2 separate regions of the Homo sapiens genome follow, and region 2 is linked to region 1. The links come from fine-mapping of genetic effects on gene expression. Tissue or cell type: subcutaneous fat. Region 1 holds a variant in brackets; the other region holds the start of a gene. All regions are shown on one strand. Distances are from middle to middle.

Region 1 (8,177 bases):
AAAAGAAATCATCAAAGCAAACATGCAAGAAAACACTATGAAGGGGCTCCAGAAAAGAATCATCAAAGCAAACATGCAAGAAAACGCTATGAAGGGGCTTCAGAAAAGAATCATCAAAGCAAACATTCAAGAAAACGCTATGAAGGGGCTTCAGAAAAGAATCATCAAAGCAAACATGCAAGAAAACGCTATGAAGGGGCTCCAGAAAAGAAATCATCAAAGCAAACATGCAAGGAAACGCTATGAAGGGGCTTCAGAAAAGAAATCATCAAAGCAAACATGCAAGAAAACGCTATGAAGGGGCTTCAGAAAAGAATCATCAAAGCAAACATGCAAGAAAACACTATGAAGGGGCTTCAGAAATCATCAGAACAAACGTGCAAGAAAACACTATGAAGGGGCTTCAGAAAAGAAATCAAAGCAAACGTGCAAGAAAACTCTATGACGGGGCTTCAGAAAAGAAATCAAAGCAAACGTGCAAGAAAATGCTATGAAGGGGCTTCAGAAAAGAAATCATCAAAGCAAACATGCAAGAAAATGCTATGAAGGGGCTTCAGAAAAGAATCATCAACATGCAGGAAAACGCTGTGAAGGGGCTTTAGAAAGAAATTATCAAAGCAAATATGCAAGAAAACGCTATGAAGGGGCTTCAGAAAAGAAATCATCAAAGCAAACATGCAAGAAAACGCTATGAAGGGGCTTCAGAAAAGAAATCATCAAAGCAAACCTGCAAGAAAATGCTATGAAGGGGCTTCAGAAAAGAAATCAAAGCAAACGTGCAAGAAAACGCTATGGAGGGGCATCAGAAAAGAAATAATCAAAGCAAACGTGCAAGAAGACACTATGAAGGGGTTTCAGAAAAGAAATCATCAACATGAACATGCAAGAAGACGCTATGAAGGGGCTTCAGAAAAGAAATCATCAAAGCGAACATGCAAGAAAACGCTATGAAGGGGCTTCAGAAAAGAAATCATCAAAGCAAACATGCAAGAGGCCGGGCACGGTGGCTCACGCCTGTAATCCCAGCACTCTGGGAGGCCAAGGTGGGCAGATCACGAGTTCAGGAGATCGAGACCATCCTGGCTAACACGGTGAAACCCTGTCTCTACTAAAAATACAAAAATTTAGCCGGGCGTGGTGGCAGGCGCCTGTAGTCCCAGCTACCCGGGAGGCCAAGGCAGGAGAATGGTGTGAACCCAGGAGGCGGAGCTTGCAGTGAGTGGAGATTGCGCCACTGCACTCCAGCCTGGGCGGCAGAGCGAGACTCCGTCTCAAAAAAACAAACAAAAGCACACATGCAAGAAAATGCTTTGAAGGGGCTTCAGAAAAGAATAATCAACATGCAAGAAAACGCTATGAAGGGGCTTCAGAAAAGAAATCATCAAAGCAAATGTGCAAGAAAACGCTATGAAGGGGCTTCAGAAAAGAAATCATCAAAGCAAACGTGCAAGAAAACGCTATGAAGGGGCTTTAAAAAAGATATCATCAAAGCAAACATGCAAGAAAACGCTATGAAGGGGTTTCAGAAACGAGAAACCGTTAAAGAAAAGATGCAAGGAAACAACACTGTGAGGGGTTTCAGAAAAGAGAAATCATCAAAGCAAACATGCAAGAAAATGCTATGAAGGGGTTTCAGAAACAAGAAATCATGAAAGAAAAGGTGCAAGAAAACAACGTTATGAGGGGTTTCAGAAAAGAGTAATCATCAAAGAAAACAGCGCATCTGTGAGGCCGGTGGTCCAGACGTGGGGCTGTGGGACCCAAGTGGTGAACTGTGGCCTCATCCTGGGCCGTTGGGTCCTGGGCTATGTGCAGGCGGAGGTGCCGTCCTTGGTCCCACTGGGGAAGGTCGGGAGTCATTGCTGCTGAGGACCACCTGAGCGCTTGCCCCAAGCCTTGCCGTGCCTGGTGGAGTCCCGTACCAGCTGCTGTCCTGCCCCTGCCAGAGACCATGGGTTCCACTGCTAGGCACTGAGCACCCACCCCCTGTGCCCGGCCACTAGCGGAGACTTGATGCTAAGCCTGGGTTACTCTGTTTTTTTTGTTGTTTTTTTTTTTTTTCTTTGCTTTCATATAAATCATTGGTTGTAACTACCGCGATATTAGCCATAATGTGTTTATGTATTATTTAGCATGTTATTATTTGCTTACTGTTGATTTTGAAATGAGGGGGCTGCCCAGGGAGGGCCTGTAGATGTGCTGGGGGGCTGTGGGGAGTGGAGACAGGGCCGCCTGGCATGTGGCCTGGCCCTGCCTGCATGTGTGTCTCAGCAGCTCCTCTCCATGGACAGGTGGGGCCAGCCTGGCTCCCTTGCCCGGCTATGGCTGCTGTCTACGTGAGCGTCCGACCTTTTGGTCCTTGGGGGCTGTTCTGTTCCTAGGATCTCAGAGCGGCCCTGAGTAGTCCACGAGTGCAGACCCACAGTGTGGACTGGAGATGCATCTCGAGTGGTGGCCGGTGCTGGGCCTGCCTCATGGAGGCTGGGGTGTGGGAGGGTGGCATGGGGGCCTTGAGCCAGCACATTCTGATCAGGTGCTGCTTCCTTCCTCTAAGGACCTAGTGAATATTGAGATGTTCCTGACGGCCAAAGAGGTGGAGGAGTCCCTGGAGAGGCGTGAGACGGCCACCTGCCTGGCCTGGTGCCATGACAACAAGTCCCGGCTCCGGAAGATGAAGGTGCACGGACTCCCAGGTTGGGGTGGGAGTGGGTCGGGGCCGAGGCTGCGCCACCTGCCCTGGAGCCAGCACCCCCTTGCCTGGTGGTTCACAGTAGTTTGGTTTTGGTTTGTAAGGTGGGGGTTGGGTTTGGGAGTTTTTTTGGTGGCTGTGTTACACTTTTAGGCTAAAATCTGGAAAAGTGCACCTCATTTGGCATTACAGTTTGTGTACAGCTGGCATGAGGCTCAGAAGGAGTGGGTTACAGGAGGCTGACCATGTGCACACAGAGTGTTGGGGCTGCTGGGCTTAGAGCCTGGAGACAGGTCAGTCCTGCTCCATGGGGGTACTCCATGGGCTCCCTGTGCTCAGTCATAGACACAGAAAAGCTGGTTGGGAAGTCATTCTCCATCTGCGAGGCTGCAGAGCTCTGGGCTGTGATATTGTTAATGAATACCCACTTTTTTTTTTTTTTTTTTTTTTTTTTTTTTGAGACGGAGTCTCGCTTTGTCGCCAGGGTGGAGTGCAGTGGCACGATCTTGGCTCACTTGCCTCCGGTGTTCAAGCGATTCTCTTGCCTTGGCCTCCTGAGTAGCTGGGATTATAGGCATGCGCCACCATGCCCGGCTAATTTTTGTATTTTTAGTAGACATGGGATTTCACCACGTTGGCCAGGATGGTCTTGATCTCCTGACCTTGTGATCCACCTGCCTCAACCTCCCAAAGTGCTGGGATTACAGGCGTGAGCCACCGTGCCCGGCCGAGTACCGACTTTTGTAGAGACCAAAAGAAGCTTAAGAAATGGACTCCTAAAGGACAAAATTTAAACCTGCTTATTAAAAGGCATTGTCACCCTAGGGGCTTGCAGAAATGTTTTAACTTATGTTAACACTTCTGCCTCCATTAGCAAAACTTTTCTGTCTTCTAAACTGAGCGCTGCTTTAACCTCACCCTGGCTGAGTTTGGCAGGGTGCAC[G/A]CAGTTACCAGCCAGGAGTGACACACTGCCACTCAGGGCCGCCAAAACAAGCACGAAGCAAAGACGGGACGAAAAAGTAGAGCGGCTAGTAGCTCCCCTAAAGAGAGTTTGGACCTTGGTATGGAAACCCTAAAAGGAAAGCCAGAATTGGTATGTAACCTGCGGCCCCACTACACAGTGCCAGCCCCACACTCCCTCCCAGAGAGCCGGCACACACCTCACAGTGGGAACTCTGCCAGGGCTGTTTCCTGTGGATGTCAGAGGGAAGATAGGTTCTTGGTGCTGCCAGGATATTCCTGCAAGCCCTAATTACCTGCCGGACAGTGTTGCTGGAGGGTGTTGGAGGCTTGCCACGAGCACACGACCTGTCTGAAGCTGCTGTGGGGACAGGCAGGGCCAGGACTCGGGGCCCTGAATGCATGCCTGGGGGACGAGTGTGCCTGGTGTTGGATGAAGTTGAGATTGGATGCCTGGTGGATGAGCGTGCCTGGTGTTGGATAAGTTGAGATTGGGTGAGCATGCCTTGTGTTGGATGAGTTGAGATTGGATGAGCGTGCTTGGTGTTGGATGAAGTTGAGATTGGATGCCTGGTGGATCAGTGTGTCTGGTGTTGGATGGAGTTGAGATTGGATGCCTGGTGGATGAGTGTGCCTGGTATTGGATGAAGTTGAGATTGGATGCCTGGTGGATGAGTATGTCTGGTGTTGGATGAAGTTGAGATTGGATGCCTGGTCAATGAGTGTGCCTGGCGTTGGATGAGTTGAGATTGGATGCCTGGTGGATGAGCGTGTCTGGTGTTGGATGAGTTGAGATTGGATGCCTGGTGGATGAGTGTGTCTGGTGTTGGATGAAGTTGAGATTGGTTTGGATGAAGTTGAGATTGGATGCCTGGTGGACGAGTGTGTCTGGTGTTGGATGAAGTTGAGGTTGGATGCCTGGTGGATGAGTGTGTCTGGTGTTGGATGAAGTTGAGATTGGTGTTGGATGAAGTTGAGATTGGATGCCTGGTGGATGACCGTGCCTGGTGTTGGATAAAGTTGAGATTGGATGCTTGGTGGATGAGCGTGCCTGGTGTTGGATGAGTTGAGATTGGATGAGCGTGCCTGGTGTTGGATGAGTTGAGGTTGGATGAGTGTGCCTGGTGTTGGATGAGTTGAGATTGGATGAGCGTGCCTGGTGTTGGATGAGTTGAGATTGGATGCCTGGTGGATGAGTGTGTCTGGTGTTGGATGAAGTTGAGATTGGATGCCTGGTGGATGAGTGTGTCTGGTGTTGGATGAAGTTGAGATTGGATGCCTGGTGGATGAGTGTGTCTGGTGTTGGATAAAGTTGAGATTGGTGTTGGATGATTTGAGATTGGATGCCTGGTGGATGAGCGTGCCTGGTGTTGGATGAGTTGAGATTGGATGAGCGTGCCTGGTGTTGGATGAGTTGAGATTGGATGAGCGTGCCTGGTGTTGGATGAGTTGAGATTGGATGAGCGTGCCTGGTGTTGGATGAAGTCGAGACTGGACGGGGCCTGAATCCATATTTAGATGCTGTCCAGAAATGCGCCCTGAAGACTCCAAATGACACGAAAACATGCCCGGTACGAGATGCGGCCGAGCCAGTTGGGGTACACGGCTGTCTGTGCAGTCTGCTCACATGTGCACGCACGCCAGGGGGTGTGTGGGGAGGCAAGGAGGAGCCAGACTGTGCTCTAACGGGTCCCTGGGACCAGCTGTGAGAACCTAGATGGGAAAAGAAACTTGAGACCCAAGTTTGACCTGGCTGAGAGATGGATTTCACAGGCATGGGTGGGTGAGTGGCCCTGAAGGCCCCTGAAGCAGTGATTTGTTTGCTGCACGTCTGTGCGAAAGCCACACGGAGCCATCAGTGTGGGCGCCTGTCGCAGGGCGGGCACAGCCTTGTTGGCGCTCCACGCCGTATGGGACAGTGTAGACTCGGTGTTTTAGATTTGGGTCTGAATACCTAAGTTTCACGACATAGACACACTTACATATTAGTGGACCAATTGAAAGTAACCTACTAGAGCAAAAGGTGTTATTGAAAAGCAGGTTTGAGGTGTCTATTGTGTGAAGCGGTAACCTAGAGTGGGCCCAGAGTCCTGCTCTTCTAGAGCACCCCCTCGGCAGCTGCGTCCTGCCTTTAGACAGAGCCCCGGCACTCGCCTGCTCTAGACACGGCAGCCATCAGGCAGCCCCTGGGAGGCAGGTGGGGCCCTGGTGGGGAGCCTCTATCTCTTCCCGCTGGCCCTTCCCTTCCTCTCCTGCCAGGCTGGCTCTGAAGGGAGCGGAGTGCTGACCGAAGTCTGCCTGCTGATTAGTGGGGTGGGGACTCGGGACCCTGGGATGACTTTGTGCCTCTCGGCTGATTTGTACCAAGCCTGGCACTCCCCACCCAGAGCCTGTGCCACTGCTGGGGTCAGAGACAGTCCTCCTGCCCCAGCTTGGAGCAAGCCTGTGAGTTCTGCGTCCAGCCTGTTGACCCGTCTGTCTAGGGACACAGGGTGATGAGGGGCTGAGGGTACAGGGCAGAGGCAGCAGGGCAGGGACCTGAGCCCCTCTGAGCCCCTGGAAGGCAGGTGGCCCCCGGGGGTCTGGGCAGCCCAGTCCTCCCCACACCCACGCGGAGCCACTGCTGTGGGTGCTATGCGTGTCGGGGCAGCAAGGCTGGCAGGCGGGGTGGGCTGGAGCACAGGTGGCTCCTCAGAAAGCTCAGTGGGGAAAGCTCTGGGAAGCGGAAGTGATGAGCTTCAACTTAAATGCAGTGGTCCGGGGTGGATTCATCTGCCACGTGGAGTTTCTGTTCATGCCGTCCTGAGAGCCAGGCCATGTGAACCCAGAGTGACACGCGGCCCCAGCCCAAGACTCGCTCCGTGGTGCCCACGCCTATATCCTGTTTCCGGGGTGAAGCCCTGAGAATGTCCTGAAACCACACGGAAGATCTTACGGTTTAGACGGACATGTCACTTCCGTAGAATCCGCGTCTCATCTTGGATGACTGCGGTCAATGTTGCCGCTGCCCCCACCCCAGCCACAAGTCTCGGCCCACGTTGGACTGAGGTTGCTGAGATTTCAGATTGAGGGTTGGGCTTCCCTTAGGTGCACGTGAGAGGCTCATAGGCAGACACATGTGGGACTTGGTCCTGCAGGAGCTTCCCCCACCCCCGCCCCTGCCTCAGGCATAGTGCCTTCAGCCAGCAGCCCCAACTCGGCCTCTCTCCGTCTTCTACACATCCTGGAAGCGCCCTCCCTTCACGCGAGCCGCCCCTTGGCCTCACAGCCACCTAGGACCTCAGTGTCCCCTGGGCCAGGCCTCCATTCCATGTGCCACCCGCCTGGGGCCTCGGCACCGGCCCCGGCTTCTGCCCGCCATGTTCTCGCCAGGTGTCTGTGCGGTCCCCCGTCCATAACCTCGGTGCAGGCGCTCCCCGCCCTACCGACCTGGGTCCTGCCTGCTGCAAGCTTGCTTCTCTGCCTCATGCCCCTGTGAGGCACCAGCCAGCAACCCCACATGTGGTCCCTGTCTCCTCCCCGCCCTGCCGACCTGGGTCCTGCCTGCTCCAAGCTTGCTTCTCTGCCTCATGCCCCTGTGAGGCACCAGCCAGCAGCCCCACATGTGGTCCCTGTCTCCTCCCCACCCGGGGCATCAGCGCCTCGGGACAGGACTTGCCCACGTTCTCCCAGAACAGCCCCGGGTTCAAGCCAGCACCCAGTCTACATTCGGGATAGTTGGGTCCAGAGGCCCGGTGGGAGTGTAGAGGAAGCAGTGGCCTCAGGGCGGGACCCAGGAAGCTGCTTTGTCCTTGCAGAGGGGTTGGTGCCTTTGCTCCAGCAGCTGCACCTGCTGCTCTGCCCTCCCAGCTGTGCTCCTGGAAGCGCCCTGAGCGCCCTGGCCTTCGGGTTGAAATGCTGGGCGGCTGCACGCCCCACCGCAGCTGCAGGAGCAGGGGGCGGGACTCACATTCAGAACCCAGTGTTCCCTGGAAAGTCTGCTGCAGGTTAAAGTGGCAGCTTCAGCCTCAGCCCTGCCTTCCCCGTGCCTGTGAGAGAGGGGTTCAGAGCTTTGGTTGTGGGGTCTGCTGGTGGACATGCGGGTGCGGCACCCGGGCACCTGGGCTCTGTGGGATGTGCTGTCTAAGCCCTCGTCTTGTCTTTGCCCTCAGAGCTGCCTGGAGTTCAGCCTCAGAATCCAGGAGTTCATTGAACTCATCCGGCAGAATAAGAGACTGGACGCTGTGAGGTAGGCATTGCGGACGTGCGTCTCCTCGAGGGAGGGCAGGATGTTCGGCTGCGGCCCCTGCCAGCCCTCCCTGTCGTGGTCTGGGTCCTGGGACGTCCCCTGGGTCGTCCCCTGGGTCTTGAGTCTGACCCCTGCCTGCTCAGGTGGCTGCTTCTCCCACTGTTCCTGAATGGGACTTGGGGAGTGAGGCCTGGAGCCTGGCAGGGCCCCCGCCAAGGTGTGGCCCCAGGTGGGCATCCAGACCCCCGTGGCTGCCAGGGGAACCAGCTTTGAGGTCCCGACCGTCCACGTAAAACACGT
Region 2 (8,168 bases), 23 kb after region 1:
TTTAAATTGCATTATCTTACTGATTTGTAGGGATTCCTCACATACAAATCCTTTGAGGGATATGTGTATTTATACTTTATTGACTGTCATTTGATCAGCAGATTTTTTAAGTTTTAGTGCAGTTCAATTTATTCTTTCTTTTGTGGCTAATGCTTTTCTATGTTCTAAAAAAAAAATCTGCCTATTCCAGGGTTGCAATAATATATCTTCCAGAAGATTCAGTTTCGGCTTTTAAGTCTGTAACACATCTCTTAACTTGTGTGTGTTGTGTGAGGAAGAGCCTGAGGATGATTCCCCACCATCCCATATGTTTACTCTATTGTTCTAACACCATTTGTTAAAAAGACCTTTCTTATCCCGTTGAATAACGTTGGCTCCATTAGAAAAAATTCCTGGCTGTGTTAAGTTGGGGTTTATTTCTGGACACTACCTTCTGTTAGACTGGCCTTTAGGTCTATCCTTGTCCTAACACCACATTATCTTAACTATTGCCGTTTTAAGGCAAATCTTGAAACCAGGGGGTATGATGAGTCCTCCAGTTCTGCTTTTTCAGAATGGTCTTGGTGGTCCTAGGTCTGTTGCATTTCCACGCACGTTGTAAAATCAACTCATCAGTGTCTGCTGAACACTGTAAAAAGTGTGCTGGGATTGTCACTGGAACTGCAGTGAACCTATCATCCCTATTTGGGGACGGTATTAGTTTGCTCGGCTGCCGTAACAGAAGACCACGGACTAGCGGGTTTAAACAATGGACATTTATTTCTTCACGGTTCTAGAGGAGATGCTGGCAGGGTTGGCTCCCGGTGAGGCCTCTCTTCCCGGCTTGCAGACGGCCCCCTTCTCACTGTGTACCTCTCGTGGTGGACTTCCTCCTGTGCACACACATCTCAGGAGTCTCTTCATCTTACGAGGACATCAGTCCTATCAGATGAGGGCTCTATCCCTAGAATCTCATTTAACGTTCCCCTCTTTAAAGGCCTCATCTCCAAATAAAGTCACATTGGAGGTTAGGGCTTCGACATAGGAATTTGGTAGGCAGGGGCCACAATTCAGTCCATAACAAGGACTTATAAATCATAACAATATTGAGTCCTCAACCCATGAATATGGTATATCTTCCTGCAGATTTAGATCCTTCTCGCATCTAAGGTATTGCCACCTCCAGGAGGCAGATCATGAGGTCAGGAATTCGAGACCAGCCTGACCAACATGGTGAAACCCTGTCTCCACTAAAAATACACAAATTAGCCAGGCGTGGTGGCACGTGCCTGTAATCCCAGCTACTCGGGAGGCTGAGGCAGGAAAATCGCTTGAACCCAGAGGGCAGAGGTTGCAGTGAGCCAAGATCGCACCATTGCACTCCAGCCTGGGTGACAAGAGTGAAACTCCGTCTCAAAAAAAAAAAGTATTTATAGAACTTTTCATTCCTTTTATAAAGTTTGCCTCTGGTATCATTTTCCTTTCATCTGAAGAGCATCCTATAACAGTTCCTGGACTGCAAATCTGCTGGTCATAATTCATGCAGCTTTTGTCTGAAAATGCTTTTACATCACCTCAGTTTTTAAAGGCTATATTGCTGCATATACAGTTCTAGATTGACAGTATTTTTTCTTTTACCACCTTAAAGATGTTCCATTTTCTTCTGGCTTTTTTTTTTGGGTGGAGGGGGAGGAGGGGACAAGAAATCCTTGGCTTCTTTGTGCCTGTATGTCATACGCCTTGTTTAATCTGACTGCTTCTAAGATTTGTCACTAGTTTTCTGCAATTTAAGATGTGCCTTGGGTGGTTTTCTTTGTTTATCCTGCTTGGGTTTTATCATCTCTAAGTTTCCATTGGTTCTTTTAAAATATCTTTTAGAAGTATCTTCTAATTCTTGGCTTGGTGCAGTGGCTCATGCCTGTAATCCCAACACTTTCGGAGGCTGAGGTGGGCAGATCACTTGAGGCCAGGAGTTCGAGACCAGCCTGGCCAATATGGTGAAACCCTGTTTCTACTAAAAATACAAAAATTAGCTGGGCGTGGTGGTGGGCGCCTGTAATCCCAGCTATTTGGGAGGCCAAGACACGAGAATCATTTGAACCTGGGAGGCAGAGGTTGCAGTGAGCCGAGATCACACCACTGCACTCCAGCCTGGGCGACAGAGCAAGACTCTGTCTCAAACAAAAACAAACAAGAATATCGTCTAACTCTCATCATGATTTATCTTGGCTTTCTAATCTTATCCAGCATTCAACAAATATTGAGCACCTGCTTTTTGTCTGGCTTCATGAAACAAAGATCCCTATTTTCAGGGACTGTATGTTTTAGGAGTGAAGAGAAAAAAGCGAATCACCTAGTAAGACAGTAAGTCTGTGTGACACAAGGGCCAGAAGTGCCCTGGGAACAAGCACGGCAGGTTTAGAAAACGGATGGGGGGTGTTGAGCCAGGGAGGTGAGCGGGTGCAGAAGTATTTGCTCAGGGTGAGACATGAGCAGTGGCTGGAAGGAGGCAAGGAACTCTGTGGATACTGGCAGAAGCTTCCCGGCAGAGGGATCCGCTCCCCAGAGGCCGTGTGGCAGCAAGAGCAGGCTGGAGAAGTCAACCGGTGGGATGCAGGGGGCAGCAAACACAGGCCACGACAGGTTTTGCCTTGCCCTGGGATGGGAGCCGTCGGAGGATTTTGTGTAGAGGAATCCTGTGATCCGACCTTAGACTTTCAAAGGTCCCTCTGGTTGCTGCATGATGGTCTAGGGGTACCAGGGTGCAAGGGAAAGACAAGGTGACGGCAGTGACCTGCTGCAGGGGTGGCCAGGAATTGGCAGTGGCAATGAGGCAGTGGGACGTGCTCAGATCTGGATGTGTTCTGAAGGTAGGGCTGTCAGGATTTGCAAACCAAATGGGCATGGAGTGAGAGGAAGAGAGAAGCCCAAGTGAGTCAGATAATTGGTCCAAGCGAACAGAAGGATGCAGGGCAGGCCCAGGCACGGTGGCCCAGGCACGGTGGCTCACGCCTGTAATCCCAGCACTTTGGGAGGCCGAGGCGGGCGGATCACCTGAAGTCAGGAGTTCGAGACCAGCCTGACCAACATGGTGAAACCCCGTCTCTACTAAAAATTCAAAAATGAGCTGGGCGTGGTGGCGGGTGACTGTCATCCCAGCTACTCGGGAGGCTGAGGCAGGAGAATCGTTTGAACCCGGGAGGCGGAGGCTGCAGTGAACCGCGATCGTGCCACTGCACTCCAGCCTGGGTGACAAAGCGAGACTTTGTCTCAAAAAAAAAAAAAAAAAAAAAAAAAAAAAAGGCTGCAGGGCCATCAGCGGATACAGAGGGCAGTGGACGGGCAGCTTGGCTGTGCTGTTGAGCCTGAGGGCTGAGAGGACACCCCGGGGCAGTGTAAAGGAGACTGGACTTAGCAATTGGTAAGAAAAGTTGGATAAAGAGAGGGTTTTGTTAGTATGGGAGAAACGGCACCCTTTTATACTAATGAGAACTAGTAACAACAAAAAAAACCACGCTGTAGAAGACAGAGGGAAACTGCTGGATGGGTGCCTTGGAGGAAGCCACAGGCCGGGGATTGGATGCACAGGGCAAGGGGCGCTGAGGGAGGGTCTGGCTGCAGCTTGCTCAGTGAAGCAAGAGGCAGGGTGAGGAAGGGGTGAGGCGGAGGAGCGGCTCGGGGCTGGCTGCAAGCTAGGAGCTGGGAGCCACTGACGCCCAGGGACAGAAGCTGGTGCTGCAGAGAGGGGCGGCGCAGGGAGTCCCTCTTCTTTTCCTTTTTAAAATAATTGCTTTACTGAGATATAACTCACACATCCTGAAACCCACCCTGTAAAAACACGATTAACAGAGTTGTGAGCTACCACCACCGTAATGCAAGGGCACGCCCATCCCCCCGAAAAAGAAACCCCGGCCCGCCGCCGGCGGCCCCCGCCCTGCACCCAGCCCCGGGAGCCCAGTCGGGCGTCTGCTCTGCGTGGCCTGTGCCGGGCGCCCCGCGAGTGGGGTCCACACCACGCTCCTCCGAAGCCACGGTTTCCCAAGCGCGGTCTCCAGGTCCGTCCGTCCGCAGCCGACCTCGCACTCCCCTGCGTTCGAGGCTGCGGACTTCGGCGGCAGGACGGACGGCGCCTCTGCTTCTCATTCCGCCCAGGGCCAGCCCGGGCCCAGGGGTACCTGCTGTGCGTCTGGCGCCGAGGTGGGCCCCGAAGACCCCCAAGCCCGCCCAGGGATTCCCTTCCCGAGGCCGGAGCGGGGAGGCGCCGCGGGGTTCAGGGCGCCCTGCGCGGGGCGAGCTCGGGGGCGGGGGCCCGCGCCCGCCCGTCTGGGCGGTCCTCACCGGCCCTCTGCAGGTGAAGGGACCTGGCTGCGAGCCCGCGGGCGGGCGTGGCGTTGAGGCCCAGACCGGAACTTCCTTTCGGCCTCAGTTTCCCGGCCGGCCCCGCCCCCGGCGCCCGTACATGCGGCCCCTTTAAGGACTTTCTGCGCCCTCCCGCCTCTTTTTTCTCGTGCGTCCCCCTCCCCACCCCCGGCAGCCTGCCTCGCCCTCGCCGGGAGCGCGCCTACGTCACCGCGCAGACCTCGGCCGCGTCTTTGCGCCTGCGCCTCCTGGGCTGGGGTGAGCCATTGGCTGTCGAGCTCAGGGCACGTGCTAGGGGGCGGGGCCTTGACCGGAAAGGGTGGGGCAACGGCGAGAAAGGCCGCGTCGAGCGGTAGGTGCAGTCGTCGCTGTGGTGACCCCAGGTCCTGATGCGTCCGGCCCAGGGCCAGCCAATGGCGGTAGAGGTCTTGGGCACCTGACAAGAGGGGCGGTCCCCCCGCCGGAAGGGGCGGGGCGAGGCGAGCGGCCGCGTCAGCGGTAGGTGGGGCTGTGGTTACGCTGCCGGGCGGGGGTCGCGCCGGTTCGGTCCCCGGGGCTCTGCGGGCGCCGGGCAGAGACCTGCGGCCAGGGCGTGTCCCGTGTGCCCGAGAGCGCCGGCGGCGGGGCCGGAGGGCGGGCCCTGGGCCGAGTGACAGGCCGCAGCCCCCCGAGCACCGTCGAAGCCGGCGCGCCCGCCCGGTGCAGCCGCTGTGCGAGAGCGACCCCGCGGTCCAAGCCTCGCGTGGCCCTGCCGGGCCCCTTCTTTCCCCGAGTAGGGCGCAGCTTCCCAGCCTCCGCCCCGGCCTCGCCTGGCGCTTCCTTCCGGGTCCTTCGGCCTTTCCCTGGCGGTGCGGCAGGCCCTCGCCTCATCCCACCAGGCACGCCGCGGTGCTCGGCCCTGGGTATCCGGGCAGGCTGCCTCCGTTAGGGCCGCCCCTGCTCTCCGGACGCGACTTTTCATTGGTCTCAGAATTTCTTGGCTCCTCTTGGCCTCTGCAGCCTTGCTGGAGGCTGCCCTGCGGAATCTGAGTGAATAAGGGAAACAGCAACAGTCACGTTGGGGAAAAGCTGATTCGGACAGCGCCACTGGTTCCTTTAACGCACGACCCTCAATGCAGCGTCCCACACACGGGATTGTAGAGGTCCCGAGTTTAAGGTTCACTTTTAAAACTGCAATCACCGCCGTAAAGGCCTTGCTGGACACACATATTTCCCAGAGAGGCACCCACAGATGGACCCCAGCCTCAGGGTCCTCCCGGAGCTTTCGGTTTATAGTGGAACCCAGTAAACACGTTAATAACACCGAGAGCTATAAAATACAGATGGTGATATAGCATCTCTGCCTTACTTATTTCTAGATATGGATCAGAAACTTTCGAAGTTGGTAGAAGAGCTCACAACTTCAGGAGAACCCCGACTAAATCCTGAGAAAATGAAGGAACTGAAGAAAATTTGCAAGTATGTCTTAGGGTTCAGTAACAGTAACTGACTGGCCCACTGAGCCCAGGACACACACAGGGCCCTGCCCTCCTGCCCCCACCTGGGAGAGAACCACCCGAGGGACACACCCAGGACATTTTCTCGGGGCCCTGCAGTACCCGGCTCTGACGGGTGGTCATGTTCTGGGGTCGGGGCGTGTGGCGTTGGGGACCCCACTGCTCTGTGGTTGGTGCTTCTCTTCATTCCCATTTGTGTGGTCTGGAGCACATCCTGTAGGAGTTCTTGAGTGCACAAATGTGATTCAGAGAGAAACGTGCATCTTTTTCTTTGCTGCTGGACTTTTCGAAGGGAAAGAATAGAGCTTGCTGATGGGCGAGTTGGTCCATCGCCTTTAGGGTATGTCCACCTCTGTTCACTTCCTCCAAGGAAAACGCCGGAGGGGATCTCTGCCGTCACCCTCAGGCAGCCAGAGATTCATGGGGGAAGCAAAACTTCCCCTCGGAGGGTGGAGCATAAGTCGAGGACACTGATTATTCTGTATCCTGTGTTTGTAAAATGGCAGTTTATAGATTGTTTATACAGTGATGGAGTGTTGACATTTTGATAGAAAATTTCAGGTCAGGTTTTGTGGCCTGCGCCAGGAAATCGAATTCGCAATGGTTTATGTGGGGTCAGGAGCTGGGAATAGGAGCATTCAGGAGGGGCTGGGAGATGTCCCGAGCTCTAGGCCTTCCTTCCTTCCTGCAGCAGGAGGCACCCAGCTGAAACAGTGTGCGTGCTGGGCGGTGTGCGTTGTGCCAGGCGGTGTGTGTTTGTGCCGGGCGGTGTGCGTTGTGCCGGGCGGTGTGCGGTTTGTGCCAGGCGGTGTGTGTTTGTGCCGGGCGGTTGGCGTTTGTGCCGGGCGGTGGGCGTTTGTGCCGGGCGGTGTGTGTTGCGCTAGGTAACGTGTGTTTAAAGAGCCAGATGGTTTGTGTTTCAGGCTTTGCTGTAATGCCTCAGTTGTGAACACAGCTGTAGATGATGTAGGTGGATAGATGGGCGACGTTCCAATGACACTTTGTGAATGAACACCGACATTTGAAGTGTATATGATTTTCACATTTCACCAAGTATTTTTTGTTTGTATTGACATTCTTGGCTTGTGGGCCACACAGAAACAGGCAGGGGCTGGGGAGGTAGATGTGGCCCTTGGGCAGTAGTTTGCAGACCCTGCTCTAGAAAAGGGGAGAATGAAGATGGGAAGGCAGTGGTGGTCCCTGCCACACGTGCGTGCGGCATCCATGCACGGAGAGTCTCCCCCCGCCCATCCTCTGCGTGTGGGGCAGTTGGGTCAGGCCAGCTCGCATCCCCAGGTCTTCAGAGGAGCAGCTGAGCCGCGCCTACCGCCTGCTGATAGCACAGCTGACCCAGGAGCACGCCGAGATCCGTCTCTCAGCCTTCCAGATTGTGGAGGAACTCTTCGTCAGGTCTCACCAGTTCCGGATGCTGGTTGTTTCCAACTTCCAGGAGTTCCTGGAGCTCACGCTGGGCACAGACCCCGCACAGCCTCTGCCGCCCCCCAGGGAGGCGGCACAGAGGCTGAGGCAGGCGACCACCCGGGCCGTGGAAGGGTGGAATGAGAAGTTTGGGGAGGCCTACAAGAAGCTTGCCTTGGGCTACCACTTCTTAAGACACAACAAAAAGGTAGGTGGGCCTGGCCCATTTTTTCAGAGACTGGTTACCTGACGTGAGGAGGGCAGACGATACCAGGGTGAAGATGCGCCTCCTGTTGAACCTAGCACAGCAGGGGCCTGCTTGGCCTTGCCTGAACACCCAGGCTGCCAGACCATCTGTGGGGTGTGGGAAAGAGGGCAGCATCTAGGGTCACGGCCTCCCTGAGAGGGGCGGCGCAGCTCTGAGAGGAAGAGCATAAGCTTTATGTGTGGGTGGAGCTGAGGCTGCATGTGTCATTTTTTATGTGCGTGTAGGAGACAAAGGAAAAGCCAAATCCAACTTTTCAGATGCAACGTTTTCTGTGACAGTGGCCCCTGGACTCTGGGACCTGTCCCAACCTTGCACTTTAAGGCTCCACCCGCACCCTACTATGGGCTCGGGCTGGTGCCTGGCATGATGAAACCCACCAGGATCTGCCACTGTGGCCTGAACCCAGCCTCATTGCCCAGACCCTACCGTGCCCCTTACCCCACCTGCCACGAAGGCTCAGTCCTCCCCAGTGCAATGACCCAGCCCTGCTGGCTTCCCTGTGTGCCCTTGGAGTGCCCTGTCTCCCAGGGTTCATGCTCAGGGTTTGTTTCAGACTCCTGGGTCCAGTCAGCAGCCTCTGCCTGCTAATGGAACAAGCACACTGCTCTCCTACCTGTGAGGTACTTGGGGTGAGAAGTCTCGTCACC

What was found. PIP is the estimated chance that this variant, and not a neighbour inherited with it, causes the effect.
Region 2: it holds the start of UVSSA, and the variant in region 1 is fine-mapped to the expression of UVSSA in subcutaneous fat (TwinsUK, PIP 0.95).

What each region holds. Positions count from the first base shown.
Region 1 is chr4:1,319,827-1,328,003 of GRCh38, forward strand. MAEA (macrophage erythroblast attacher, E3 ubiquitin ligase) reads left to right here. Exons shown (of 9, transcript NM_001017405.3): 4 at 2,555-2,677; 5 at 7,801-7,877. Among named protein-coding and RNA genes, the nearest start is that of UVSSA, 23 kb to the right of the region's middle. RefSeq lists enhancers at 3,674-4,873, 6,048-7,247. The variant G/A (reference allele first, on the strand shown) is at 3,633.
Region 2 is chr4:1,342,394-1,350,561 of GRCh38, forward strand. It overlaps UVSSA (UV stimulated scaffold protein A), which reads left to right and starts at 4,815. Exons shown (of 14, transcript NM_020894.4): 1 at 4,815-5,367; 2 at 5,697-5,796; 3 at 7,131-7,461. The coding sequence starts at 5,699. RefSeq lists enhancers at 2,532-3,055, 3,056-3,578, 5,424-5,503 and silencers at 3,874-3,963, 4,184-4,513, 4,754-5,193.